7 linked regions of the Homo sapiens genome follow. The protein of the gene in region 7 purifies or fractionates together with the protein of the main gene of each other region. This does not show direct contact. Each region holds a gene or a part of one and is shown on either strand. Other genes may lie near its edges. The genes, in order: GBP5, TLCD4, ATP2B2, MFSD8, SLC25A46, SLC29A1 and SLC22A16.

The links.
Region 1: the proteins of SLC22A16 (region 7) and GBP5 purify together in Homo sapiens (affinity purification with mass spectrometry; 2 studies listed by BioGRID and IntAct, with this or other methods). This does not show direct contact.
Region 2: the proteins of SLC22A16 (region 7) and TLCD4 purify together in Homo sapiens (affinity purification with mass spectrometry; 2 studies listed by BioGRID and IntAct, with this or other methods). This does not show direct contact.
Region 3: the proteins of SLC22A16 (region 7) and ATP2B2 purify together in Homo sapiens (affinity purification with mass spectrometry; 2 studies listed by BioGRID and IntAct, with this or other methods). This does not show direct contact.
Region 4: the proteins of SLC22A16 (region 7) and MFSD8 purify together in Homo sapiens (affinity purification with mass spectrometry; 2 studies listed by BioGRID and IntAct, with this or other methods). This does not show direct contact.
Region 5: the proteins of SLC22A16 (region 7) and SLC25A46 purify together in Homo sapiens (affinity purification with mass spectrometry; 2 studies listed by BioGRID and IntAct, with this or other methods). This does not show direct contact.
Region 6: the proteins of SLC22A16 (region 7) and SLC29A1 purify together in Homo sapiens (affinity purification with mass spectrometry; 2 studies listed by BioGRID and IntAct, with this or other methods). This does not show direct contact.

Annotation. Positions count from the first base shown.
Region 1 is NC_000001.11:89,255,677-89,259,855, forward strand, and holds the end of GBP5 (guanylate-binding protein 5), read right to left. Parts: 3' UTR 513-4,179; downstream 1-512.
Region 2 is NC_000001.11:95,144,417-95,148,595, reverse strand, and holds part of TLCD4 (TLC domain-containing protein 4), read right to left. Parts: intron 1-4,179.
Region 3 is NC_000003.12:10,495,210-10,499,388, forward strand, and holds part of ATP2B2 (plasma membrane calcium-transporting ATPase 2), read right to left. Parts: intron 1-4,179. UniProt on the Homo sapiens protein: ATP-driven Ca(2+) ion pump involved in the maintenance of basal intracellular Ca(2+) levels in specialized cells of cerebellar circuit and vestibular and cochlear systems.
Region 4 is NC_000004.12:127,954,657-127,958,835, forward strand, and holds part of MFSD8 (major facilitator superfamily domain-containing protein 8), read right to left. Parts: intron 2,937-4,179; coding exon 2,845-2,936; intron 1-2,844. UniProt on the Homo sapiens protein: Outward-rectifying chloride channel involved in endolysosomal chloride homeostasis, membrane fusion and function. Conducts chloride currents up to hundreds of picoamperes.
Region 5 is NC_000005.10:110,748,549-110,752,727, forward strand, and holds part of SLC25A46 (mitochondrial outer membrane protein SLC25A46), read left to right. Parts: intron 1-4,179. UniProt on the Homo sapiens protein: Transmembrane protein of the mitochondrial outer membrane that controls mitochondrial organization.
Region 6 is NC_000006.12:44,226,069-44,230,247, reverse strand, and holds part of SLC29A1 (equilibrative nucleoside transporter 1), read right to left. Parts: exon of another isoform or gene 4,081-4,179; intron 3,239-4,080; exon of another isoform or gene 3,209-3,238; intron 2,989-3,208; coding exon of another isoform or gene 2,935-2,988; coding exon 2,906-2,934; intron 859-2,905; coding exon 777-858; intron 660-776; coding exon 457-659; intron 342-456; coding exon 202-341; intron 1-201. UniProt on the Homo sapiens protein: Uniporter involved in the facilitative transport of nucleosides and nucleobases, and contributes to maintaining their cellular homeostasis. Functions as a Na(+)-independent transporter.
Region 7 is NC_000006.12:110,424,282-110,428,460, forward strand, and holds the end of SLC22A16 (solute carrier family 22 member 16), read right to left. Parts: intron 1,102-4,179; coding exon of another isoform or gene 1,075-1,101; exon of another isoform or gene 805-1,074; coding exon 592-804; 3' UTR 406-591; downstream 1-405. UniProt on the Homo sapiens protein: Facilitative organic cation transporter that mediates the transport of carnitine as well as the polyamine spermidine. Mediates the partially Na(+)-dependent bidirectional transport of carnitine.

The sequences.
Region 1 (4,179 bases), on a different chromosome or scaffold from region 7:
GGATATCCATTCTCTAAGACTTCAGTGTTACAGAGGGAATTTTATATATACATGCACAAGTGTATATGTTCGAGAATGTTCCGATCGGGCGCGGTGGCTCATACCTGTAATCCCAGCACTTTGGGGAGCCGAGGTGGGTGGATCACCTGAGGCCAGGAGTTCAAGACCTGCCTGTACAACATGGTGAGACGCTATCTCTACTAAAAATGCAAAAATTAGCCAGGCATAGTGGTGTGTGCCTGTAGTCCCAGCTAGTTGGGAGGCTGAGGCATGAGAATTGCTTGAACCTGGGAGGCAGAAGTTGCCTTGAGCCGAGATCATGCCACTTCACTCCAGCCTGGGTGATAGAGTGAGACTCTGTCTCATAAAAAAAAAAAAACAGAAAAAAAAAAGAATGTCCTTAATAACATTTCATAAGGTAAACCTGAAAATCCAGATATGTATTAATAGTAGAATGAATTGTTATCTTTAAACAGTAGAATATATATAGCTTACAACTACACACAATGAACTAGATGAATCTTATAAAGATTTTATTAACAAATGAAGCAAGGCATAAAAGAATACAAACAATGTAATTCCATTTAAATAAAGTTTGAAAACAGGCCAAACAAAATTACATTACTTAGGAGCTCACATGTTTATAATAAAATCCTAGAAAATAGTTGTGAAAGTTGTGATATTAGTTGGCTCTAGCAGGGTTGTCAGAAGTTGTCATATACACCTATAGAATTTTAGTAATGCTGAATGTATGTACCTGGGTTGTTACTTGTGCGTTCATCTTGTAATTTATTTATATTGAATATTGTACATTTTATGTTTTTTGTACTCTTCAGTATGTGTCACATTTAATAATTTTGAAAAACAGAGAATGGGATGTAACTAACTAAAATATTGCTTTGAAAGGGAACAAAGATTGTGTTGAAACTGACTGAGACATGGGGTCAAGAGAGATTTCAAGAGTTTTGAGTCACATTTAGAAAGGCCCTCTCCTCTACAGGTTTATGAAGAACATAACCTTGATTTCTTCAAATGCATTTTCATAGTTTTACATTTTATATTTTATCAATTTGGGTGTGGTTCCTTTTTCTTATTTTAGTGTATTGTGTGTGAGGTCTGGTTACAACTTGATCTTTTCCTATATGGCCATCCAGTAGTCCCAACCTACTAAGAAGTCTATCTTTACCCTGTATTATTCCTATAAAGTCTATTTTTTGGACTTTCTATTCTGTTGGTGATCGTTATACACTAGAGTCATTACCACATTTTCTCTACTTCATTTTAGAAATTTCTTTACCTGCTTATTTTGTGCTGAATTCTTATACATTGTTTTGAATCTATGCTTTTGATTTCAATTATTTTAGTAATTCCTTCTAAATTTTAACACATTATTCAGTATTTCTATGTTTTCCTAAGTATATTAGTCCATTTTCATACTGCTATGAAGAAATACTCAAGACTGGGTAATTTATAAAGGAAAAGAGATGTAATGGACTTGTAGTTTCACATGGGTGGGGAGGCCTCACAACCACAGCAGAAGATGAAAGAGGAACAAAGGCACATCTTACATGGTGTCAGGCAAGAGAGCATGTGCAGGGGAATTGCCCTTTATGAAGCCATCAGATCTCAGGCGACTTATTCACTATCATGAAAAAAGCACATGAAAACCCACCCCCATGATTTGATTACCTCCCACCTGGTCCCTCCCACAACACGTGGGCATTATGGGAGCCATAATTCAAGATGAGATTTGAGTGGACACAGCCAAACCGTATCACTAAGCAAGATAAGAAAGTACCACAAGATGGTTATTAATGTGGGTTCTAAATTCAAAAGGCCTTCTGTGGTACTGACCTTAATTTATTTAATTTCAATGCTTTAACAATAATAACTTTAATAATGATAACACTAACATACATTGATAATATTGTTTAAAATAACAATTGCCATAAAACAATACTAAATGTTTATAAGGTTTTTATGAGCAACAGGTGAATTACTACAGTGACCATAATAAAGTGATCCATAATAAATTCCAAATATCTCTTAGCTGGTATGAATAACTATTCATAGTATTAACTAATAAAGATTTTGTACTTGTTTCCTATTGCTGCTATAACAAATTATTACTAATTTTGTGGCTTAAAACAACAGAAGCTTATTATCTTACAGTTTTGGAAATCAGAAGTCTGTGAAGCTTAAATCAAGATGTTAACAAGGCTGCATTCCATCTGCAGGCTCTAGGGGAGAATCTATTGCTTTGCTTTTCATTACATTTAAAACTAGATCAGTTGATTTCACAACAGTAAGACAAAGAAAGTCAGAAAATATAAGCTACTTACTGGTAGTTTCAAGAAATCATCAATGTTTACCTTACAGTGCCTTTTCTTGTTCTTTTGCACCCAGTGACAGATCTCTAACCTGTGAGATCAGAGTATTTGGGGATGAGTGGGATCCAGGGAAGCTGGTGGGGAAGAATATCTGTGGATCACTAATGAAAGCAGCATGCCTCTCTGGTTTTTGGTGGGGGAGATATAATAGCAAAAGTTAAATTAGACTAGAAATCAACTACTTTGTAACATGGTCTAGGTTAACAGTAACAAGGTGTGAAACCTTAAATGACTTAATTTTCTGAGTCTCAGGATTTTAAAAAATTTCTTTAAGATGGGTAATAAAGATATCAATATTTAATTTGGAGATAGAGCTATTCTTTTTACTGATAACATTTCCTTGGATGATAAAATGTATTTTTTTCTTTATAAATTGCACAGCTTGAAAAGGTAATTGTAGGGTATTGCTAGACAAATGCTCAGTTGAATATGCTGGTACCTTCTGAACTTCAGTTCAAATCTAGAAATACTGCTGAGTAGCACCACATCCTATCTGATATGAAAAATTCCTCATATTAAAGCTCTTCAAAGAACAGTAAAAAGAGCAGACACTAAAATTTTTCGGCTTTTTTCTGTATATAAGTAAATCATATTTTGGGTGACTAAAAAAATTCAAGCTCCTATCATATTACCTAAGTGGAAAATTCCTTATATGAGTAAGTACTTATAAGGGAGAAAAACAGAGCTTTGTGTAATGTTTCTATAATTTAAACAAAAAAAATTTTACTGGAGATATACAAAACAAAGTAACAAAAAGTACATAAAAAGATGTAATAAAGTGTGTTTTAATTCTAGTCTTAAAGCAATTCTTAATCTCCTTAGGGAAATTCAGTCTTTCTCTATAGACTTTTAACTTTGAGAAAAATACAAACAAAGGAACTGATTTATGGTTTTCCAAAAATGTTTTTATGGTTAAAATCTGTACAAACAGATATATTTATATAAGTTACATATTTTAAGAAAAATCAGTCATTTTTCATATATAATTGCAAAGAATTAAGATCATTTAACTTTAGCACTATAAGCAAGCATTAAATTAAATGCACTCAGATTTTTGGCACATTATATGGCATTCCTTATACCACATATTTATAAGATCTAAAGGATTATAAACATATTACACATAATAATTAAGTCCAATATAAATTGTGTTCAGGTTATAAAATGCCCTATTTAAGTTGTGCTCTTGGTGAGGGTGAACAGAAAAGAAAAGGCTTCTTCTTTAGCCCTTAAGCCTATGACACAATTTCCATGCTGGTAATTCCTTTCATCTTCTGAAGAATCTCTATTTTATTATAACATTATTGGCTTTCAGCTTGGAATTTCTCTACGCAGATTGTCTATTGACAGTGCCAAGGAAACATCTCACTGTCCACAGAATAGCAGCCTCCACCCAGTTGAAAGCTGCACATTGTTTCCACTTTACCATTGGTACTTCCCTCTGATGGCATCCAGCACACGACCATTAGCCTGAGTGATGCCCAACTGAGCCCAGACTTTGGTCAAGTTCCTTCCGACTGAGCCCAGTTAGGGACACCCTGCCCCCAGAGGAATATAACAAGCCCCCTCCCCTAGCTGCCCTGCAGCTTATTTTTCGTCCAAAAGGTCGCCCCCACCGCAAGTTCCCAGAACTTAGGTGCCACTATAACCACCCCTAAGCTAAACCACATCCTGGTACCCTGAGCCAGGCGGGGGCAAAAACTGACAAACTGCAGGATGTGGCCATACTGGGAGGAAAAGTCTCCACAAATGGCCTTGCCCCCCCGACACCCCCGCACACACACACAAA
Region 2 (4,179 bases), on a different chromosome or scaffold from region 7:
ATACAGGTGTGAAGTATAACGGAGAGTATAATGCAAAATTGCCATTTCTTGCCATTTAGAAATCCAAAGGCCACAGCTTTACTTTGGAATAAAGAAGGAGGAAGATACCAAGGCCTACAATTTCCTGCTAGAGAACTGGTGAATCACTTATTGGTTAAAAGTTCTAAGACAGATAAATGCATACATGATGATGCAGCTGACAGACTTTTGTGCAGCCAGATGGCAACTGGCAAGGCCACTACCCTTGGCTCCAAGCTCCAGCCCCAACAGCATCAATGCAGGATAAGTTTCCTGCTCCAATCAGCTGGGAATGACTTCCAGATCTACTGGCTTTAACAAACTCCATATCCTTAAAACAATTCGAATGGATCATGATATGAAGATTTATTATCTTGGGAGGCTTCAGTTTTTAAAGTACGTTGACATGCACTATTGCACTTGATTCTTGTAACAAATTTGTAAGAAAACAAGGGTAGCTATTATTAGTCCCTCTTTATCATTATTATGAAAACATTTCTAAATAGAAAAATTGAGGACCATAAATGTATACGGAAAATTTGTTTTTAAAAGAAATACCCAAGTGAAAGCACAATGTTCTCAAGATCCAGGTCAAGTTTTCTTGTATAGAAGGAATAAGTTTAACATAAAAACCATAAGTTTCTATGAATATATCTTGTTAATAAATTTAATGATGTGACTAATTCCCAAGCTCTATGTTACTTAGAGAACTATACTTAGGATACTGTGTATTCATCCATACAATAAAGTTTTTTTACCCAACAATTTCAGATTTCTCACATCTTTATTGAGAAGTTCACAAGTAATGAAACTTCATTAGGATAAAAAATGAGAGGTACAGCAAAGTTTTCTCTCTAAAAATTACTGGTGTGCAATAAATTTTTCTCTACAATATGATCCCAAATCTTTAAAAGTAAAATATATCAACTAATATTAGGTTTGGTATCAGAAAATTTCATTGTAACTTTAGAAACCAATATACTTGACCTAATAGTGTGTTACAAAATAGATGTATCATGCTAAATCAAGCCATATTTTAAATAAGCAAAGATTCTCACCAATTTAAAGGCATTGACCAAGTATCATTTATAATACCTAAGAATCATTTTGAAATGTGAATAATTAATCCAATTTATCTGGTTTACAAGTCTATAATTTTCATGCCAAGCACACCTTGAGCACAGGATAAAAATGTAAATTCCTTGGCCGGGCATGGTGGCTCACACCTGTAATCCCAGCACTTTGGGAGGCCAAGGTGGGCGGGTCACCTGAGGTCAGGAGTTTGAGACCAGCCTGGTCAACATGGTGAAATTCCATCTCTACCAAAAATACAAAAATTAGCTGGGTATGGTGGTACACACCTGTAATCCCAGCTACTCGGGAGGCTGAGGCACAAGAATCACTTGAACCTGGGAGGCAAAGGTTTCAGTGAGTGGAGATTGCACCACTGTACTCCAGCCTGGGCAACAGAGCGACACTCTGTCTCAAAAAAAAAAAAAAATTAAATTCCTTGATATAAAATAAAATACTCCATTTAAATGGTCATACAGCCCACTCTCTATTGCTATTCAAAAATTATATAAAATTTAAAAATATATAATCTCTCTTACAAACTTGTTTTACTGTTTGGTAACCATAGTCAGAAAGCTCCCTTTTGAAAAACCTAACTTTTTATTTCTGACACTCAGGCCTCAGATTCACTTCTCTTTTGAGATGTTATGTGGTAAATGGAAAGCATTCTAAGCCCTCAGCTGATGGAAATGGTGTATGATTCAGTACAGAAAAGTTAAATATTACTTGGTCCAATCAAATATCTCCCTCTGTAATGAGGAGGAAAAACAAATACCCTGCCCTCACTCATACACTATTCTGTATTAAAAGTCTATACTATAGTTTCAGAAACTTCTGTTAATAAAAATTTTATATTTTATTATTTAAAATCAGATTCCTAGCAAAGGAAAATTTAGATTCCTTAGTATCTAAAAAGAAATTCCAAGATATTACCCAAGATAAAATATTTCAATTTTTTTTCAAAGAGGGTGGAAAAGAAATGTTTGTGCATATAAAGGGATAGCACTCTAAGGAAATGATTAATGACTATTTTAGAATAGCAATTTTAAGTTACTAATCACAAGTAGTGTAAATATTGCCAACAGAAATTATATAACTCAGCTAAATTTTAGAGAAACATTTAAAAATTAGTAGTATTTCAACACAATAAGACTTTCAATGTGATAGGTAAGAAAGTGAATATAAGTAATTAAGAAAATTTTTTTACATTATAAGATGTAGCACCTGTAAGTATACACGTTTTCAGAAAAAGTAACAATTCAGTACAACAATTTCTCACTTTTAACTAAACTGTTGTCTCTCAAATGGGCATTTCCAGTGATTTTTTCTCCTCCATTTCTTTTTATACTAGATGGCTCAGACCACTCTCAACTCATGTTTAGAGACTCTTTCCTGATCACTAGAAAGAATTATGTGTGTTTACCTGTATGTTTCAAACTGGAAGCTGAATTTTAAGACATTTATACATATTTTACTCAAAATACAGCCTCCTTGTCCTACTTTGCACTCTCCACCTTACAGCTTAAGTCCTTTGTAAAAAAAGCTGGAGTGAGAAGCAGGAGCAAACTTGAGAAAAAGAGAAAACACCACTGAATACCTAAATGAATTTTATATAATCCCAGACTCCTTTTTCAAATAGAAATTCAGTTTCCCAAATGGTATTTCCTGTGTCATAGAATGGCAGTGATAAGACTAGATAATGCAAAATATTCTTCAATTTCATTTCATTTTCATCTTGGCTTCCATCTCTCTGTACCCTTTCCTATTTCTCTGACTTGCAGCTACCTAACATTCAAATGCCTTTACCTATCCTAACCACAGGAAAGAGGAAATGAAAATAGTTCAACATTTAATCAGAGAACGTATGTACCCCCTTCTCTTTCCTACCATTCCATCTATCTTCATATGTTAGAAAAGATTTTTTAAAGTAATGGTATCTCTAGTATAATGCATTTGAACAATATTTTTGTGCTAGTCTTAAGACAAAATAATCATACTGCTTATTTTTTGAAAATATGTGGAGAAATAATTCTTGCTTTTTGGGTGAAAAGAACTTTGACATGTATGAACCCGATACATCACTGTAAAGTACAAAAAAAAACAACTAGAGTCTTATTAAATTCACAGTCTGAATCATAAAAGTAGATGCCTGCAAAACAATTTGGTTCAAAGGGAATTTCAAATCAAATATGACCATTCTCAAATAAATACTCAGACACTGACAGAATTTCTTGAATTTTAAAAGGAAATTTCAATGAAAGATAATTATAGCAAACTTTAGAGACTTGCTGAATCCATTTTATGGTTAGTATTAACTTCAACTAAATAGCAACAACAAAAAATAAGGCCACGGCTGCTCTGACTCACTGAGGTTTACAAATGCACAGTGATGTTTGGGGACATAAAATGCTCTAAAGCACGTGAAGAAGTCATCAGAGCCATTTTGTGTTTGAAATCTTGTGAGATTAATAAGTTGTACACACACAAAAAAATTGCAACCAACTTTTTAAAACTCTGGCAGGGTGCAGTGGCTCATGCCTGTAATCCCAGCACTTTGGGAGGGCAAGGTGGGTGGATCACCTGAGGTCAGGAGTTCAAGACCAGCCTGGCCAACCTAGTGAAACCCTGTCTCTACTAAAAACACAAAAATTAGCTTGGCATGGTGGCGCATGCCTGTAATCCCAGCTACTCAGGAAGCTGAGGCAGGAGAATCACTGGAACCTGGGAGGCAGAGGTTGCAGCGAGCCAAGATTTCACCACTGCACTCCAGCCTGGGCGACAGAACGGGACTCTGTCTCAAAAAAATAAATAAACAAATAAAATAAAAATAAAAAATAAAACTCCAGCAGATTTCTATATCAATAGATGTCTAATTCTTTCTCCATTTACTTTTCTGTTTAAAAAAAAAAAACTAAAAAGAAATTTTTACTTTAAAATTATATAACAAAATAATAAATGCTGGAGGGCTCTAAATTATAATGCAAAGTTCATTAAAAGATTCATATGCACTGACTGTACACTTTGTTCCCTGATGTGTAGAGTCTAACTGCCCCAGGTCTGGCTAAGTTGGCCAATGCTGTATGGTATAAG
Region 3 (4,179 bases), on a different chromosome or scaffold from region 7:
CCAGTTTGACGTCTGGCCCAAGCCACGCCTTTTTCCTGGAGGGTTGGGGGAGGGGCTAATACCATGGACAGGGTGCTGGGCTTTGGACTCTACTCTGCAACCTTGGTCAATTCCTCTCCGGCCTCAGTCTCCTCTTAGGTCCAATGCAAAGGGGCAGGAGCAGAGGGGCTATTCAAGAGGCCTTGGACAAGCCATCCCACATCTCTGAGACCATGTTGCTCATCTGTAAATGGATCCAGTCGCAGTGGTGAGAGTAAAGGAAACTTTTGCACACGGAGCCCCTAGCATCGAAATTGCTCGCTAAACGAGAGCTGTCTTGGTTATGACAGGTTACCCGGGGGCTGTAGTGAAGCCCACTGTAGACGTTCCCAGGGCCAGGGAAGCTGATGTCTCCACTCAGCTCAGAATTTCCTTCCCCTGAGGTCATGGGGCAGACTCAGGCCTCTGAGAGGGCAGAGAAGTGCCTAGAAACAGCCCTGGGTCCCAGTGCCAGGTCTCGCTTAATTTTATTGCTACTCCCTGAGTGCAGGAGTGGCCCAGGCCACATACTCTTCACCACACTGACCCCATTTTGTAGATAAGGAAACTGAGGCTCTGGAAGCTCTAAATACTGTGGTGGTGAGGCTGAGTCTTGGTCCTGGAAGTTATTCATGGCCTAGCCCCCAGGCAGGGCACCCGCAGTCGTATACCACCTTCTACCTGGGGCTGCCTCCGCCTCCCAGCAGGAGTTGTTTCTGGAGCTGATTCATCTCTGAGCTCAGCAAGGAGCCCGACAAACAGCCTGGTCCACACCAAATACTTAGCTAATACTGGTTTTATTGATTTGCATTCTATGCCCTCTTCAGGATGCTCTGAGCTCAGAAATCTGAAATTGGCTGGGGGTGGGATGGGGAGAAGGGCTTCATTTTAATCTGAAGTGAGTCATGTAAGTTGATAAATTTAGAAGTGGCCTAAAGAGCTCTTAATCTGCTGCCTTCAGATAGTTGCTAGGAAGAGACTGGCACCCAGCAACCTTTGCATCCCAAATCCACATAACAGAGTGGACACTGTTGGTGCCCACCCTAGTCCTCCTTACCGGTCTGCAGCTTCCACACCCCAGCTGCTGGGAGCTAGAGCTCCCGGCTGCCCCTTCTTTGCAGGCTTGCCCTGGGAAGAACAGGAGCTCCTGCCCGGGCAATTGCACACAGCATCCCACTCAGAAGGCAGCCGTGGCCAATAACTATCTGATATGGGGTATGAAAGGCCAGCTTTTTTGCTTCAAGGCAGAGCCAAACCTGGGGCGCAGTTCATGCCCCACATCCCCCAAGGGATCAGCTGAGGCCACACGCTTGTTTATCTCTTTCTCTCCCTACCTTGTTTCCTTTCAGCCCCTTTCTCCTGAGCGCTGTCTCATGCTTGCTCCTAGTGAGTCCAACCCAAGATCCACACACATTGCACTCCACACGCAGACACTAGCTCCACCCCTCCAACCCCGCCCCTTCCCCCGTGACCTGGACATCAGCAATGTCCAGGCAGCTTCGAATTTTAGACATTTAAAGTCTCAGGGGGCCCATCTGGCTCCAAAAGGCTTGTTTCAAAGATGGGAAACTGATGCTCAGAAAGAGACTGTGACTTGTCCAAGGTCACTTGAAGTGCTTGTCATGGCTGGCTGCACCCAGGTCTTTGTCCTCCCCCCAACTCCAATCCACTTTGTGGCCCTAGCCTGTCTGGTGGCTGGACCAACGGGCCAGCCACGGCTTTTGCTGTCTCCAGGAGGGAATTTTGCTGTGTCAACTCTGCAGAAGCCACTTGGAGGCCAGGAGAGTGCTGGCTGGTGGGCTTGCAGGATGGTTGGCAGGCTCTGCTGACCTTGGGCAGCTGTGGGCAGGGTGGGCATCCCAGTTAGGCCCCTTCCACTGTTTGTGGTGGTCAGGCAGAAAATTGAGGGAAGACAGAAACGACTTCTAATGAGGGCCCTAATTACCCTGTGGATCCCTGAAGCACTGGTGATGTATCTGCTGGTGGCTTCTTCTAGAAACCCTCCTCTCCATGGCAAGAACTGCTTTCTCCATAAGAGAAAGAGTCCTGAACCAACATGGGCAAAGAGGCAGCATTGGGCTGGTGCCTGGACATTGGGCTGTGGTTCCAGTCTGCTGGGAGCTGGCTGTGTGATCCTGGGCAAACCAGCATGCCTCTTGGCCCTTGGTTTTCTCAGCTATAAAGCAAGTGCAGCCTCAACTGCTATTATTTTATTGAGCCTAGTGTTTATTTTAGTATCATTTATTGAACTAGAAGAGACTCATTAAAGTTCATCAAATAATAATTGCTTACACTTCTGCCAAGGGCTGTCCTAAGCACTTTAATTTTACTTAATCCTCACAACAATCCTATGAATTGGACACTTTTGTTATCCCCATTTTACAGATGGTGGGACTAAGGCACAGAGAAATTAAGAAACTTGTGCTGGGTCACACAGCATGGAAATGGTGGAGCAGGAATTAGAATCCCAGAGTCTATGCTTTAAATTCCTCCTTGTACTACGGTCTTTGCTGTTTGTTTTGCACGGCCATTTATTAAGCACCTACTGCATATGGGGACTCTGCTGGTCACGTAATACACACAAAAGTTTGCCGACTTCTCACAGCTGCTCCGGCAAGCAGGTGTTCTTTTGCTGATTGTTTCAGAGTGGACACAAAGGACCCAGTGAGGGACTCACCGCAACTGAGCTGGGGAGGCAGGTGGCAATCCTGGCTTCTTCCCACCAGCCTGGTGGCTCTGTTCTGAGCCCCTTATAAAACTGATCTTATTTATCATATTTTCTTGACTCTAACCTGTATCACTACTTTACGTATATTTAAGAAATAAAAGGCATGGCTGGTTCCACTGTGGTGTAACACCAGTTGTCAGGCACAACCTGGCTTCAGAAATGTCAAAATGTATATCTTGGAATCCGCACAGTTCAGTCTCCGACACAACGGCCTGATGAGGCAGGCAGTGTTGTCATCTCCATTTGACAGTGGAGGGAACGGAGGCTTGGAGATTAAGGACATGCAGCTGGTCAGCGGCCAGGCATTGGATGTGACCCCAAGCAGCCTGGGCCCAGATGTTGTCCTCAACTACTGCGCTACATCAACGCTAAGTCAGGCCCACGTAGGATGGCGTGCCCTGCCCATGGGCACAGATCAAAAAACTTCAGAAGGATCAGTGAGCTGGAGGCCAGCACCCTCTGCTCCGGATGAGCCTGGGGGCCTCACTCAGCGTGGATGCCTCAGGCATGCAGGAGGCACCCCAAATGGCTGCCACAGCATTCCCCGCCCACTGCCTCCACAGCTCCCTTGGGCCTGCAAGGCAGGTGTTTGACAGAGCTGGGCTAGAATGAGTTCATCCAGATGACGCCCCCATGGCTCCCACAAAATGGTCCCGGGGCAGCCAGACATGGCCCGGTAGAGTAGCCCAGCCGGCACAGGAAAGGCACCACTTTATAGGAAACTGCCTTCAGAGGCAGCACAGAAGCTTGCAGAGACCTGCTTTCTTCCTTCAAAGCTACATGGTGCTTGGACCCCAAACGGTGTCATCCATTCACTGCTTCTCCCATAGGCTCCACCAATCCCATATGCTCCACTATGGCACGACTGCTCCCAATTTTCCCAAATCAAATCCACCCTCCTTGGACTAGGATGTGCCCCTTCTGGGGACATCTTTAAGATGCCCACAAGCAGGGCAGAAGCTCAACATATTTCGAATGCCTGGCATGATGAGGGTTCCATTTGAGACATTACCTACCCATCATCTCGTGGCACAATCTTGTGAGGCAGGTTTTTCCCACTCCACTTTGCATATCAGGATGTCAAGCTCAGAGAAGCAAAGCTACCTGCCCAAGGTCACACAGTAGTAAACACTGGCATTAGGATTTATACTCAAATCTTTCTGATGCCACAAAGGAGGCCACTTTCCATCAATTTCTGGCGAGGCCCTGAGCCAAGTGCTTCCTTTGCATTACTTCACCAAATCCTCATACAACAAATAATAGCATCATCATAATACTACCACTATCCCATCTTACAGGCAAGAAAACATCCGCTGAGCCTCTACCTGGACCACACCCGGGCCAAGCCCTGTACTTGGATCCTGTTTGCCTCACGTGACAACCGGGAAGATGGGTGCTCAGCTAACCCTTGGTTTACGGAGGAGCAAACTGAG
Region 4 (4,179 bases), on a different chromosome or scaffold from region 7:
ACACTTCTGTGAATGTGAATCACAGGATACATTTAGCACACTGAATAGAAGAGTCCTGGAATGGGAGAAAATATTTACAAATCATATATTGGATAAGGGGCTAACATTCAGAGTATATAAAGAATTCCTACAACTCAACAACAAAAAATCCAACTAATAAATGGGCAATGGTCTTGAACAAACACTTCTCCAAAGAAGATATACAAATGGACAGAAAGCACAAGAAACATGTTCAACATCACTAATCATTAAGAAGATGCAAATCAAAACAAGATACCATCTCATCCACTAGGATGACTACTATCCAAAAGAAAGTTAACGTTGGCAAGGATGTGAAAAAATTGGAACCCTGACTGTTGTTGAGAATGTAAATAAAATGGTACGGCTGCTATGGAAAACAGTATGGCAATTTTCCAAAAAATTAAAAAATTAAAAAGAAAATCATAATATGATCCAGCAATTTCACTTCTGGATATATACCCAAAAGGACTAAAAGCAGGATCTTGAAGAGATATTTGCACACCCATATTGACAGCAGCACTATTCACAACAGCCAAGAGGTGGAAGCAACCCAAATGTCCATCGACAGATAAATGGCTAAACAAAATGTGGTAGGCCAGGCTAGGCTGTAATCCTAGCACTTTGGGAGGCTGAGGCCGGTGGATCACGAGGTCAGGAGTTCAAGACCAGCCTGGCCAAGATGGTGAAACCCCATCTCTACTAAAAATACAAAAATTAGCCGGGCATGGTGGTGGGTGACTGTAATCCCAGCTACCTGGGAGGCTGAGGCAGAGAATTGCTTGAACCCCGCAGGCGGAGGTTTCAGTGAGCCAAGATCACACCACTGCACTCCAGCTTGGACGACAGAGCGAGACTTTGTCTCAAAAAAAAAAAAAAAAAAAATGTGGTATATACTGAAGGCAATCAGAGTATGCTACTCCAAAAATCTGCTGTTTTGCCATATTAATTATCTCAAACTGAAGGCAACCGAGAAATAGCAGATGCAGGAAGGGTTCTCTGCTCTCCCCCTTTCTGCCTGAATGCAGAGAATAGATTGAATTTTGTTTTGTTGTTAATTCTTTGAGGCACAATTGAGATTCTGTTACCTACAATCTGTCTTGGGACATTAAGACACAGGTATAATTAAGACTGTATATTTAAACTTAAGAAATTTTGCACTGGCCAGGCGGGGTGGCTCACGCCTGTAATCCCAGCACTTTGGGAGGCTGAGGCGGGCAGATCATGAGGTCACGAGATCGAGACCATCCTGGCTAACGCCGTGAAACCCCATCTCTACTAAAGATACAAAAAAATTAGCTGGGCGTGATAGCGTGCGCCTGTAGTCCCAGCTACTCGGGAGGCTAAGGCACAAGAATTGCTCGAACCCAGGAGGCAGAGGTTGCAGTAAGCCGAGATCACACCACTGCACTCCAGCCTGGGCGACTCCACCTCAAAAAATGAATAAATAATAATAAATAATAAAATTTTTTTAAAAAGAAATTTTGCACATCTTCAAGAAGTAGCAGAACAAATAATTGACTGATGGCTGTAAAGATGAAATACTTTTGGCCAGGTGCGGTGGCTCAGGCCTGTAATTCCAGCACTTTGGGAGGCTGAGTCTGGCAGATCACGAGGTCAGGAGATCAAGACATCCCGGCTAACACAGTGAAACCCCGTCTCTACTAAAAATATAAAACAATTAGCGTGGTGGCGGGTGTCTGTAGTCCCAGCTACTCGGGAGGCTGAGGCAGGAGAATCACGCGAACCTGGGAGGCGGAGCTTGCAGTGAGCCGAGATCGCGCCACTGCACTCCAGCCTGGGCGACAGTGCGAAACTCCGTCTTGAAAAAAAAAAAAAAAGAAAAAAGATGAAATATTTTTAACTGGGGGCGGTGACTCACGCCTGTAATCGCAGCACTTTGGGAGGCCGAGGTGGGCAGATCACCTGAGGTTGGGAGTTCGAGACCAGCCTGACCAACATGGAGACATCCCGTCTCTACTAAAAATACAAAATTAGCCAGGGGTGGTGGCACATGCCTGTAATCCCAGATACTTGGCAGGCTGGGGCAGGCGAATCGCTTGAATCTGGGAGGTGGAGGTTGCAGTGAGCTGAGATCGTGCCATTGCACTCCAGCCTGGGCAACAAGAGTGAAACTCCGTCTCAAAAAAAAAAAAAAAAAAAGATGAAATACTTTTGTGAGTACATGAAAGTGTTAGGGACTCTTAGTAGTTGTCTAGTTTCGTTTGTATGTACATTCCTTAATGTTATTTGTTTCTTTTCATTAAAAAATATTAACATCAAATAAATTTGTATACTTTTTTAACTGTTAGTCTTTCTTTTGTCAGCTTAATTCACAAGCCTTAAGCACATAGGAGAATAGAGGAAAAATTTCTCCTACCCTAGAATACATATAATGAACTATACAGCCTTTAAATAAAAGGAAATTATCACAAGTGCAACATGAACCAACTTGAGGACATTGAGTGAAATAATCTCATCACAAGAAAAAAAATACTATATAATTCCATTTATATGAGCTATCTAGAATAGTCAAATTCCAAGAAACAAAGTTTGCTAGGGCTTGGGGGATGGGAAAATAGGGAGTTGTTTAATGGGTATAGAGTTTCTCTTTTGCAAGATGAAAATGTTCTAGGGATTGGTTGCACAACAATGTGGATATACTTAAGGCTATTGAACTTAGATATGGTAACACGGTAAATTTATGTCACGTATTTTTTAGCACAATAAAGATAATTTCAGAGGCAATGAAAGTAAATGAAGTAAATGAAGTTAAAATATGACATCTGATCTGAATTGTTAAAATTATGTATTTCTAATACTTACCTACACTGCTGAGAAACATAGTAAGATATAAAATCCTAATAGATCTCCATCGGCTCTTATAATGCTCTTCAGTCTCTAAAATGTCCCATTCTCTAGGTGTAAAGAAGAAAAAAGTAGTATAAATTTATCTCATTACATGTGGATCTTAAGTGTCAACAGTTTTATTCTCTAGTTATGAAAATGATGTGATAGAGGTAGAATTTACCAATATTGATTCTGCTACACTAATTTATCTATGAATAAGCATTATTTTTTTGAATTTCCATGGATTGTATATATGCATTATTGTATACAGAAATTTGGGAAACAGTATAGTTTTAAAAGAGGAAACTTTTTGCAAGGCAATTATTTTGCTACCATTGACATGCACAGATTTATTAATCAAGAGTGTTGCAATTTGTAAAAATGAATAAATTACGTCAAGATAAATCAAATAAACTAGCTACAACTAGATCCCCCGTAGCTACTAAGTACTAAAAAATAATAACTGTCATCATTATAACATGCTCTACTTGATGACAGCAAATTAAATTGCTGCAGGAAGCTCTTTTGGCTTCCTACTTCAGAAAACAGGAATGATACCAGGAAGGTTTAACGTAACCTAAGACATTTTCAGCCCTGGGACCTCCTAAATGGGTTACCAGATAAATTTTATCAGCAGACCAAAGAGAGACCATGACTCCCCAGACTTAAGTGATCTTTTGGATAAGCGTCTGATCTGGACCAAAGGCATGTATACTAAGTAGATATCTTACCTCCATTAGGTGACACATGAGTCTATATACTCATTACATTTTCACACACACAATAGAAAGAGTTAACAAGTTCACCTTAACGTGAGCATTATCTTTTCAAATAATCAAGACATGCAGAACAGACAAAATGCCTTCTTATGTTCCAAGATTAATTTCTTAAAAATAAGCCTTAGAACTGTCAAATTAGTCTTCAAAAAAGAAACTTTTTTTTTTCAAACGTGATATGGTTGGGAGTGGTAAAGAGGAAAGGAAGAAGAGAAACAATGTTTTTAGATGTATTATATGCCAAACATATTAGTTCCTAATATATTTAAAGTGTTTAACACTATATATGTCATTCCATATAAACAAACCTCTTCTGAGTCAAAGGAGATAAGAAAAAAATAAAAATAATGTAGCTTACCTGAGAAAAATACCAGAACCCTAGATGCCCATACTTTGAAATCAATATACTAGAATTTGAATAAAAAACCAGATATATCTAAGTTAGGGAATCAAGAAGTAAATTATTTGATTCTAAAAAAATAATAAAATTGTTTGAGTGACTGATTTAGAGCTCAGACAAAATCTTTCTTCTTTT
Region 5 (4,179 bases), on a different chromosome or scaffold from region 7:
TAAAATTAATTATATATTATTAAATTAGTATGTGATAAAGAAAATGTGTCTTGGCTTAGTATCTATTGAGATGTATCTTTCAGCTTCTACTGCTATGTGCCAGCAACTGCCAGCTGAGGAACAAATGTGGGTATGTGAGCAATTCCCGCTCTTTAAGTATTCATTTAATGAAGGAGACACATGTAAGCAAGAAGAGGTAACATGTCCAATGTCACGGGGTTGGACAGTCTAGGTAATAAAAGAAGTGTCTTATGTTTGGAATATTGGGTATGTATGAAATTGAATATCAGGAAAAGAAGCTGAGGTGCTACATTAAAATACGATTGTGCCTTTTTAAGTTTATTCTCTATGGGTTTGGAATGTGTTTCTTTTTTTAATATATAGATGTTCTGATCAAGATATATTCAAATGGCAGTATAAAATAAATGGAGTTGTATAGACAGATTTATGGAGATCTATTGTAATAATCTAGGCGAGGCTGAGAAGGTTCTGAACTGTGGAACAGAACAGAAAGGGATGAGCTGGCTAGACATTTCTGAAGTATAGTCGATGGTCATTATGTTAGCTTGGTAATTGGAGATAGGAGAGAATGAGTTGTCAGTAGTGACTGAGATTTCTAGATTGGAAAATGTTAACCAAGATGGAGAATTCAAGAAGAAGAAAAAGTTGGAGTAGGGAAGAAGATAAAGAATTTATCTTTCAATAAATGAAGTTTGAGATTCTTGCAAGACATTGAGGGAGAGGGACATGTCTCATATTTGGTTGGAACCATGGATCAGAGTAAAAAAAAAAAAATAGAAAATTGAAGCACAGGGAGAGCTTTGGGTATTGTGGCATAAAAGTAGCAGCTGAAGCTTAGGATAGATGAAATCACCTAAGGAGAAAGCATAGATTAAATGAATAAAATGGACCAAGGACAGAATCCTAGGCATACATGTGTGCCGTGTGTGTGTGGGAGCGGTGGGAAGGGGGGTAGTTGGGGGAGATAATGAGAGAAATTAGAGAGGGCCTCAGACAAATTGGAAATAGCATAAGATGTAGGACAATCATGTTCTAGAAACCAAAAATGGGAGAATTAGAAGTGTAGATACATTTGAGAGAGAGGGTAGAGAAATTAGGGAAATTTGCTTTTGGGTCTCTCTTTTCTCTGTGAAGCAGGATACAGGGTTATTTGGTGAAAAAATGATAAGCATTGGGGTTGTAGTAGAAAAGCATGAGAGGAATGATACACATTTGGGACAGTCACAATGATGGGTAACAAAGGAATCTTACAAAGAGTATATGAAAGGAATGTTAATAGGTAATATTGGAAATTAGAAATTTTTAAGGTGCTATTTGGCATTACTCTGATTTTCTATATCAGCACTATATTTTTGTATATCATCCTATCGATAATGTTAAAGGCTTTGGAATGGTTTGTTAATCCAAATTTATTCTCTGGCAAGGTGAATTTTTTGCATTGTTAAAGAAGTGAGATAGTTGAAGGCATAGCTACTAGTGTAACGCATATGCCCAATGTTGGGATTTAGTCCTTACAGGGAAGGAAATGAAAGCAAGAGAAACTGATAGTAAGCTTTTTTCCAATGTGATTGCTTTTGAAGGACCTCGTAGTCTTGAAGTGCCTTAAATAAACTTTGCTAAAACGTTTGAAACAAAACAAAGATTAGAAAGGTCAGCAACATTTGGGCAGCTCAGAGTTTCTTGTTTTATTCTTTAAAAATCTGTATTTCGTTGTTTGGCTAACTATTCACTTTATTGCTTTTATATCACTAGATAAGATCCCAAGTTAGTACTTATAGTCAAATATTCTTGAAATTCTTTAACAAACAATTCTGTAAAAAAATAACAAAATGCAGGAAATTCCATTTGGTAGAGTGAAAAAAATTCAATGCAGTTGTTCCTCATATCTGTAGGGGATTGATTCCAGGACCCCCAGTGGATACCAAAATCCAGAGATGCTTAAGTCCCTTTTATAAAATGGTGTTGTATTTGCATACAACCTGTACATAACCTCCTGTATACTTTAAATCATTTCTTGATTCCTTGTAATACCAAATACAATGTAAATGCTATGTAAATAGTTGTTATTCTATATTGTTTAGGGAATAATGACAAGAAAGAAAAAAACTCTGTACACATTCAGTACAGATGCAACTATCCCTTTTTTAAATAAATATTGTAAATCCGTAGTTGCCTGAATCCATGTATGTGGAACCCATGGATATGGAGGGTTGACTATATTTGCAACCAGAACACTATTGGTTCAGGTCCTGGCTATTCCACTTTTTATTTCTGGGACCTTATGCAAGTAATGTTGCCTCTCTAAAGCAGAGATGAAGGAATAACATTAATTTCAGGCTACAGGGAAGAAAAAAGAAAAATAGGAATGGGAAGGCATAGGACTTTATAAAATTTTATCATCTAACTTTCTTACTCAGTAGACAGACATGTCAACTGAGTGGGAATATATTTTCATCATTTTGAATCTTTCCAAAGAAGACAAAATAGTAACCTCTATTGCATTGTTCTACTTGGATAATTTTGGTGATAAGGCCCACTCATTAATTCATTCATTTACTTGGCTAACATTTCCTGAGTACTTACTATGTGCCAGGTTCTGTGCTAAAAACCGGGTTTACAGTGAGGAAAATAAACAAAAGGTAACTGTTGCCAGGAAGCTCAGAATCTAATAAAAGTACATTCACTAAGAACAATAATTCCATTAATGAATAATTGCAAATTGAAATTTGTTTTCTGAAGCAAAAGAATATAGTTCCATGAAAGTATTAAAGGGCTAGAAACAGTGTCCCTAGTAACATGACACTTAAGGTAGATCAGAGTGGTAATTAGGAGGTACATACCAGTTTGTACAAAAATGCTGTTGCAGTGGGGAGCCTAGAGAATTCAGGTGTAACTGAGAGAAGCCTCACATGGCTGGAGCTCTGGCCAAGGGTAAGGGTACAGAGCAGGTGGGAGCCAGAACATGTGTGGCCCTGTAGGCCATTTTAAGAATATTGAAGAGGTTCAGTAAGGTCAGTGACATCAGATTTGTTTTCAAAGGGTCATTGTAACTGTAGATGAAAAGGTTGTATGAGGACCAAAGTGAATAAAAGGAGACATCTTAGTATTCTATTACAATAATAAAGGTAAGAAAAGATAGTGGCTAAGATCAGGGTGGTATCTTTTGAGATAGAGGTAAGTGGACAGTTTTGAAATATACTTAGGTCAAACTGAGGGAATTTGGTGATGCTTTAGGAATGGTAGATCAAAGAGAAGGCAGTATGAAGAATGACTTCTTGTATTTGGGCTTGTGTAACTAGTTGTCAAATGAAGCTGTTTTTTTGAAGTATAGTGTGAATATCTTTTAAAAAATTATTTATTCTTCTTTGGGCAGATTTGACCTTTCCTATTAATGGGAAGAAGGCAGAGTTTGTTTCTGTATCCTATTAATGGGAAGAAGGAGCAAACAAGGTCACAAAACATTAACAGCAGTTCACAGAAGCTACTACATGAGGAGGATGAGCTCTGAGGTCTCCTAGCCTGGGGTTTTTTAATTGCGTAACATTTACTAGGTAGAACAGGGGAGATAGTACAGATTTGCCAATATTTAGGGGTTTTTAAATACAGTTTATGATCAAATCAAAGAGAAAAACAGCAGATCTCTAGTGTTCATTAAGTCAGCAAATTTATAATTTCTCAGTAGTATTACTTTTTAACAAATTATATATTAGCCAGGATCGTCATGTGTGATCTCTTTAGCAGTAGATACTGCTAAACCCTTCCCTGTTCTCTCTCCCAGTTGCAGTGAGTTAAACCATGTGTCGTTCTACCCCCACAGTACCCTTTACTTAATTTACATGTGGCTTTTTTCAGACTGTTAACGCGAGGTAGGAGTTCCTGTAACCAAGGCTACCTGTGTGGTTCAGTCTCTCACAAAACCCATTTGGTTCAACTCCAACTTAGTTTTGACTCATCACACATCTGTGGTTATACCACTGTAAACATCTTGTAGTTTTCCTCCAACGGTTCCCTCCGAATTTGCTTATTTTAAACACACGTTATTTTAAACACAATGAAATCTTCCTCAAATTCAATAGATTTCCTTTCTGATTAATAGTTCCTGAGTAGGGAACACTGAAAGAGTTTAAGTAGAAAAGAAAGATTTTAAGTTGGACTTTA
Region 6 (4,179 bases), about 66 Mb from region 7:
CCTTGAGGCTGAGCTGCCCTTCTCTCTGCCCCCTCCCAGCCCTGGTCCAGGCCCACTCAGGCCTCTGAATCCCAGCTGCTCACAGCATCCACTCCCTCCAGGCGGAGGCTGGGCTTCTCTCTGGCTAACGCTGGGTCTGAAAAAAGAGTGGGGGTAGTTGGGCATGCCTCCTCCCATAGGCCCCCTCCTGGCCCAGCTTACAATTAATGAGCACGATCTTGATCATGGTGATGACAAAGAAGGGCAGAGCATCCAGCTGCACCTTCACCAGGATGGCAGTGATCAGAAACACCAGCAGGATGGCCACCAGGCTGCCCAGGATCCGTACGGACTGGGGGATCCTGCCGGGAGAGGCCAAGGGTGGCAGAGACAAGTGGGCAAAGCTGGGGCTCAGCCAAGGGGGTGCAGGACACAGTGAGGGTCAGGCTGGGGGCTGGGGAGGGGGTGGGCACTCACCTCTGATGCAGGAAGGAGTTGAGGTAGGTGAATAACAGCAGGGGCAGCATGGCACATAGGGTCATGACATTGTTGAAGATGGCACTGAGAGAGTTCCGCTCAGGCAAGGGTGCTGCAGGGGCGGCTGACGCCTGGGCGTCCTTGCTCAGTTCAGCAGTGACCAAGGACACATTCTGGGACATGTCCAGGCGGTTTGTGAAATACTGCAGGGGTTGCAGAGAGGAGTGTTGAAATCTCTTTCCCTGTGCCTACCAGCACAGAGTCAGATCCTGCAAGCACAGTGGGCACTGCCCCATGGAGCCCAGTCCCTCCAGCCTCACCTGAGTGGCCGTCATGAAAAAATTCCACGGGAGCAGCGTTCCCAGACCCAGCATGAAGAAGATAAGCCAGACAGCTTTGTATCTGCAATGGAGGAGGAAAGATGGGCCAAATGACGCACCATCCTGCCCCACTCCACAATGAGCCCCAGGAAAGCCCCTGTCCGTTGTCAGTCTCTCTAGGTCCCAGGGCACAGGGCGTCTGTGTTTGTGTCCGTTTGCATGTGTCCTCTTATGGGTGTGGGGGGAGAAAAGGGTACATTGCTCGTTGGAATTTGGGGTGGGGATGGGGTCAGGGTCATAGGACTGAATGGCATGGCTGACAGGACCATGGTTATCAGCCCTGGAAGGCTCGGGGGACTCTGCAGGCTGGGAACCAGTGTGACCCACACATCCGGAGATGGTTTTGGAAATCCTGCCGAAGGGCAGGGGGTGGGTGGATGAGTGAGAAAGCAAGCAGCAAGTGTCTTCCACTCCCACCAGGCAGGCTGGAAGTAATTATGCTGTCTGGTCAGGGACTGTGTTACTCCCCAGAGAGGATTCTGAAGTTAAGAAACTCCCATACTATTCTGGACCTACAGGGCAGGTGGGCAGGGTGCCTCAGGGCCGCTGTGAAGAGAGGGCCTTAGAGCCATTTTCTTCCTGGCCAAATAGAACTTTGTAGTTCATACCACCCAGGGCAGGCCAGGAGGTATGGGGCCACTGGAGGCCATCTGGGCCTCAGGGTGTAAATAAGGACTGTCCACCTTTGGCCAGGGCAATGCCCCAAGCCCTATACCTCAAGGCCCTTCCGGGTCACGCCAGCTTCTCCCAGATAGGCCTTGCCTGAAAGCTGAGTAACCCCAGCCCGGCCCATGTAGATCTCCAGTTGGGTTTGCACACCCTCCCCAGAGCCAACACCAGCTCTCTTCAGAGATGGCAGGGATAAAGCCCAAGGCAGTGAGAAGACAGGCCTGGCCAGAGTGCAGGAGCCTGGACCGCTGGCAGGCCTCATACAGGGATGGCGTGGTGAGCACACCACGTGAGCAGGTCCGAGTTAATGCAACTGCAGCCCCCCCAACCCCCTCACATACATGCTTCCCTTGGAGAAGCTAAAGGCTTGGTTCGGAGGCCCAGAGCAGAAGGAAAAACTCCCAAAGTCACATAGGACAGAGGATCGGGGTTGGGGGGAGTACGCTGGGAAATGACTGAGCTGTGCAATAAGGCAAATGGAGCCGGCGAGGCCTTCAGGGAACTGCCCACAGGAGAGCGGAGGTGGGGACAGAATGGGCAGGCAGCCTGGGAATGGAGCACAGGAGGCAGGGAAGCAACCTGGGGCCTGGACTTATTGCCATGCCTCCTTAAATTCCCTTACTTCTAGATCCACTTCCTGGGAAGTAGATACTTTTAGCTTATTTTACAGGTGGAAAAACAGTCCCAGAGAGATTAAGCTACATGCTCAAAGCCCCCACAGGCAAAAGTGGCCTAGTTTCATAGCCTTTGGCACAGGAGGGAGATGGGGTGGGTAGGGCAGACGTGATGGGTTTCTGGGGCCTGAGTTGGAGGGCAGGACAGAGCCTGACGCTTTGAAGGAGCTTTGGATCTCAGGGATCACTTCCTCAGCCTTCTTGGGTCCCAGATCCCTTTGAGAAATTGAATTAAGCTACAGCCTCTTCTTCCAAAATACATATTCACAGTCATAACTGCAAGTCTAACTTGACTGGGAGTTCACAGGCTCCAGAGGCAGGGAATTGAGAGGAAGATCAGATCAAGAACCAGGGTGGGCCAGGTCATCTAAGGCAGAGGCCCCAGGGCAGTTCTGCCAGATGTGCATTGGAAGGAGGGGTGCAGCCAAGTATCTCCCCACAGTGGTGGCGGGAGGAGCCGAAAGCCGCTAACTGGCTGGAGAGCAACAGTGGAAACACAGACAGGCCAGGGAAGGACTGCTGCCCACGCACCCTGCCCTTCCCGCAGACACCCCAGCCAGCACCCAGCCAAGGCACACGGGGTCCCCACCCCTGATGCAGACCTGACTCATAGCTACCTGGCTGGAAGGCCAGCCAGCAATGGCAACCCCCAATTCCAAAGGACACCACACCCAGCTCCCTGAAAACCCATTCCCTGGATCCACAGCCCAGCCCCTTACCCCTTACCTGTCCTGAGGCTGGTGACTGGTTGTCATGGTGATGGTGTTCTCGGTTTTCCCTGGCTGACAGCTCCCTCCCTCAGGGGCCTGCTGGGGGCAGGAACAGTGTGAGGCCCTGTCTTGGCCCTGCCATAGGCCTCCTCAGGCTCTTAGGGGGAGAGGGGGCAGGGCTGACAGAACAGGCCAGTGGAGGAGTCCAGTAAGACCCCCTCTGCACCCTGCCCCTCAGGACGACTCAACTTGACCCCCACCCAGCCCCCTGGCCCAGCAGGCCAGTCCTGCGCGGCCCCCCTGCCTGCTCAGACTCTACCTGGCTCCCGGCCTGGCCGCTGCCACCGCTATTTTTATCCAGCAGCCGAAGCAGTTTATAAGCTGGGAAACAGGAGGGTGGAGAGCAGGAGGGAAGGAGGAGGAAAGATGATGGGAGGGAGGGAAAGACAGTCAAAGAAGGCAGGCAAGAGGACGAGAGGGGTCAGGGACAGTGATGACAAGGGAAGGAGGGAGACAAATGGAGGAGACACAGCAAAGAGGTCGGGGGAGGAGGAGGAAGGACACGGAACAGGCAGATCTGCAGCAGCTGCGACAACATCGATGATGACTGAGGTCAAACCAGAGGCTCCCCAGGCCCCTCTCTGCAAGTCTGGTCTCTCCACCCTCCCTGGGGAGCCCCTGGATTCATGGCTAGAGTGGGGCTGTCCTCTCCTGAAGGCAACCCAGATTCCAGTCTCTCTGCTGTTGGCACCTTAACCTTTCTTTCCAGCCACTGCCCAGGGGCTTCCTAGTTGCTGGCCGGTTTTCCAAGAAAATATTTCATAATGGATGTGGGGGCACAGCCCTTCCCCCTCCCCCCTCCCGACCCCAGGGTCACCTAGTCCTCCCTTAGTTCCTCTCTGTCACAGGCTCCTGTCCGCTTCCCCTTTCTAAGAGTGACCTTGAAAAGAAGATTGGAGGGGTGGATCCCAAAGCACCTATCCTTCTGCCTCAGCGTCCCTCTCCTGCTCCCCATTTGTGTAGGGGGAGACCCCCTGGCACCAGCAGATTAAACAGCTTTCCCATTGGGTGGCATGGGAAGCCAGGCAGATGTGCACTGACACATTCCCCACACTCAGGCCTAGCTGGGCCCAGGCCTTGCTGTTTGGGGTGAAAGGACAGCTTCCCTTCCCTCCCTTTCTGGGCACTCACCAGGTGCCCAGACTGGCCAGCAGAAGGGTCAGAGCAGAGCAAGCCTGGGCAGTCCCTAGGAGGTGCTCCTAGTTCAGGCTCAGGCAGTGGGCCTTGTCC
Region 7 (4,179 bases):
TGTTTTTAGAGCTATGATTCTCATAAGAGGGGAAAAAATATCAGAAATAGAATCTGCAAGGAGCTTTGTCAAAAGAAATGCATTCTCACATGCCCCTTCTTTTGGGAAGCCGTGGAGGGGTGGCACTGGCGGGATAGAAATAGGTGAACTCCGGGAGGCTGAGGCAGGAGAATGGTGTGAACCCGGGAGGCGGAGCTTGCAGTGAGCCGAGATCCCGCCACTGCACTCCAGCCTGAGCGACAGAGCGAGACTCCATCTCAAAAAAAAAAAAAAAAGAAAAAAGAAAAAAAAGAAATAGGTGAACTCCCTCTGGCATGCATGGTAGGGGGGTGGTGGGGAAAGGTTGAGAATCAACTACATAGAAAAACAAATGTTGAAAAATATTTTGCAGCAATAAGAAAGCAGTTTTTAAAACTGAGAATTTTCATCTTAGTTTTTATTTCTTTTATAACATATTTGCTTTAAAATTTTCTTACAAAATTTATTAAAAAGACATACAAACAACATATGGGAGATGAGAATAAGATTCCTCTAATACAAAGGCATTAGGGTAAATAATATTTCAGGTGCTAGACAGCAGGCATGGCACATTTATTCACCAAGACCAGAATCCCTGGGGGTAATCGCTTCCGTTTTTTCCAGCCCACTATTATTAGTTGTGAGAAGTAATTTGCTTGACTTGCTTTCATTCTCTGACTCCAGTTTTGCAGCCTCCTCCCAAGTAGTTGCTAGCCGTTTCCCAAGGGTTTCTGGAAGCTTTAGTGTTAACACTCCACTCAGGAGGGCCATAGTCCCAACAAACAACTAGAAGGAATTAAAAATAATGATAAGTGACACATCAAGAAAGGAACGAACCCTTCGGAGAATAGAATTTCCTAACTGTTTTCAGAGGGTAATGGATTTGAATTTGACATAACAGTTGTCACTGTGATTACTCGGTGAGATCTTTGGTTACTTGTGCTGGACTTCGAGTTCTTTTCCTCATCAACGAGGTTTAATCTCATCACTCACTCATTCATTCCTTCATGACCCACCATGGAGTGCCTCCTTAATTGCCAGCTACTGCCTGCATTATTACTCCTGAAGGTGCTGTCCTAGGAGCTGTGGTCAGAAAGAAAAAAGACACTTACCCCATCTTTCCAGACCCCAGAATCTTGTGGAGAAGACAAGTAACTGAGCCCTGGGTCAGGACATGCCAAGCAGGGACTGTCTTAGTCAACCCTGTCCCTGCCCCAATAATCAGTACACTATCAGGGTTCAGTAAATGATAGGGAATGAATGAATGAAAACAGGTTTCAATCAACCAGAATCTACGGAATTTGGGGGAAGCTAAACAAAGGCAGTGAAAACAAATTGCTACTTTATGGGGCAGGGATCCATATAATTTCCTATACAGTTCGGTGTGATTTCTTTATTTTCCAGATTTTGACACATAAAAGGCAGCCTTTTAGACTAGCGCCAAGGCGTTTGCTTTTAAAAATGCAGGTCACATTAAAAATTAAAGTCTGCATATCTATTCTCTGTTTATCATCATGAAGATGCTGGGTGGTTTTTATTAACAGAGCTAAATCTCTATACAATCCGTAAAAACACAATCTGTCCTTACTTAATTCAAACTCCTTTAGCAAAATATATTTGCTGGAAAGACCCTATAAAAATAAATTAAGGTGTGGCTTTTCTGATAAATCTACACACTTGGTATGTTTATAGCCTCTGAAAATGAGAATCATAAAATACATAGAGCAAGTGTGAAGTGATGCCAGATCACATCCATAACAGACGAGACCTGGGAAGGCAGTTTTTCATTTTGTTTTGCAGAGCACTGATAACCTAATTCTTAGAAATATACGAAATATATGAGTAAGCTTAACCCAGACGCAGTAGCAGAATTTCAAGTGACATTCCAAAGGAATTTTAAAGACGTTTTCTGGTCTCTCAAGACACGGCAAGTATATCCAGTGATCTAGAAACCCCAGAAGAGCCCTAAGTCAGGATCTGAAAAACACTGAGGAAGTCTAAAAGCAAAATAGAATCAAATGGAAGATCCAGAACAGAATGGAATTTTTCTTCTTAGCTTGGTAGTAAGCCTAGTCAGGCAGGAAACAAATCATACCTCTCCACCTCCTCCTCACTCCTGCTTCCCTGACCAGCTCCCCACAATCCCCCAAACCCCAAACCAAACTTTGAAATAAGTCCCCCCTTTCCCACCCCTCCCTCCTCCTGGAGGGAGGCCAGGCGGATCCTTTCACACTCTCCAGACCCCACTGCCTCTCACCTCCTCCTCAGAGATCTCCCTCCATCCATCGTCCAACCTCCTTCTCACATATTTTTGATCTTTTCCTTTCTGCTGGCTATTTTCCCTTGGCAAAAAGAAAAGCTCTCAAAGGGCTGGGCATGGTGGCTCAAGCCTATAACCCCAGCATTTCAGGAGGCTTGAGGTGGGTGGATCACCCGAGGTCAGGAGTTCGAGACCAGCCTGGCCAACATGGTGAAACTCTGTCTCTACTAAAATTACAAAATTAGCCGGGCGAGGTGGCACATGCCTGTAATCCCAGCTACTTGGGAGGCTGAGGTATGAGAACTGCTTGAACCCAGTAGGCAGAGGTTGCAGTGAGCCAAGATTGTGCCACTGAACTCCAGCCTGGGCAACAAGAGTGAAACTCCGTCTTAAAAAAAAAACTTCTCAAAGACTGGGTGCAGTGGCTTACATTTGTAATCCCAAGACTTTGGGAGGCTAAGGCTGGCGGATCACGTGAGGTCAGGAGTTTGAGACCAGCCTGGGCAATATGGTGAAATTCTCTATGAAAAATATAAAAATTAGCCAGGTGTGGGGGCACATGCCTGTGGTCCCAGCTACTTGGGAGGCTGAGGTGGGAGAATCTCTTGAGCCCAGGAGGCAGAGGTTGCATTGAGCCAAGATTGCACCACTGCACTCCAACCTCAGTGACAGAGTGAGACCCAATCTCAAAAAAAAAAAAAAAAAGAAAAAAAAGAAAGAAAGAAAGAAAAAGAAATGTTCTTGACCCTTTTATAATCTCCATACCCACATTGCCTGGGTACTTGCCACCTGCTACCTGTGTGGCTTTGGGCAAGTTACTTAACCTCTCTGCTCCTCAGAGTCCTTTTCTGTAAAATGGATGAAAGAATAGTATCTGTCGCAAACGACTGTTGAGAGGATGAAATTAAATATTACGCAAAAGGCACTTAGAACAGCGCCTGGCTGCAGTAAGTAGCCAATACATGTAAGCTCTCATTACTGCATGCATATATATATATATTCTTAGCTTGGTAGTAAGACTAGTCAGGCAGTCGGGTTCAAGCGATTCTCCTGCCTCAGCCTCCCGAGTAGCTGGGACTACAGGCACGCACCACCACGCTCGGCTAATATTTGTATTTTTAGTAGAGACGGGGTGTCGCCATATTGGCCAGGCTGGTCCCAAACCCCTGGCCCCCCAAAGTGTGGGATTACTTGTGTGAGCCACCGCGCCTGCCCTACTGCTATTATATATTGAAAAACAAGATGTTTCTTAATATTCCATCATTACTGCTGTTGTATCTTTTAAATCACCATACCTGGCATTTCCCCACTCCAGCCCTTCTCTTCGGGACTGGTGGTGATTTGCTCTCCTGCCCTTCCCACCAGACTGTACATCTCTCAAGACAGGCTATTTCTTTCATCTGCTCCTTAGCACCTAGCAGGGTGGCTAGTTCAAAACCAACACTCAGTCAACGATTGCCAAATGAGTTAATGAGCACATAAAAAGCTAATTACGTGTCCACCTTTTTTAGATTACTAGAAAATAATGGTTAATAACAAAAGCATCAGAACGAGTGATTTTTCATGTGCCTCTTTTCAAAAGAGAAAATATAAACATCTTCCAGATCAGAGTTTTCATTTCTCAAAATGAAAACACTGGCTCCCCAGGCAGTTTGACATCCATAAACAAGTTTAATGGGAAATCTGATTTTTTTTTTGACTCATTACAAACAATAGGTAATACTCCTTAGATCCAAAGGAAGCACATTCACAGACTACTTCCATAAATATACACCACACCCTGTGGCCAGAGCTGTCTTAGAGAAGGGATGGGCCACTCAGGGACAGGCTGGACAAGGAGCTGACTGCTCTGTGCTCACTTTTGTATAGATTGTTTGTTGGACCTTGTGTAAAAGGCAAAG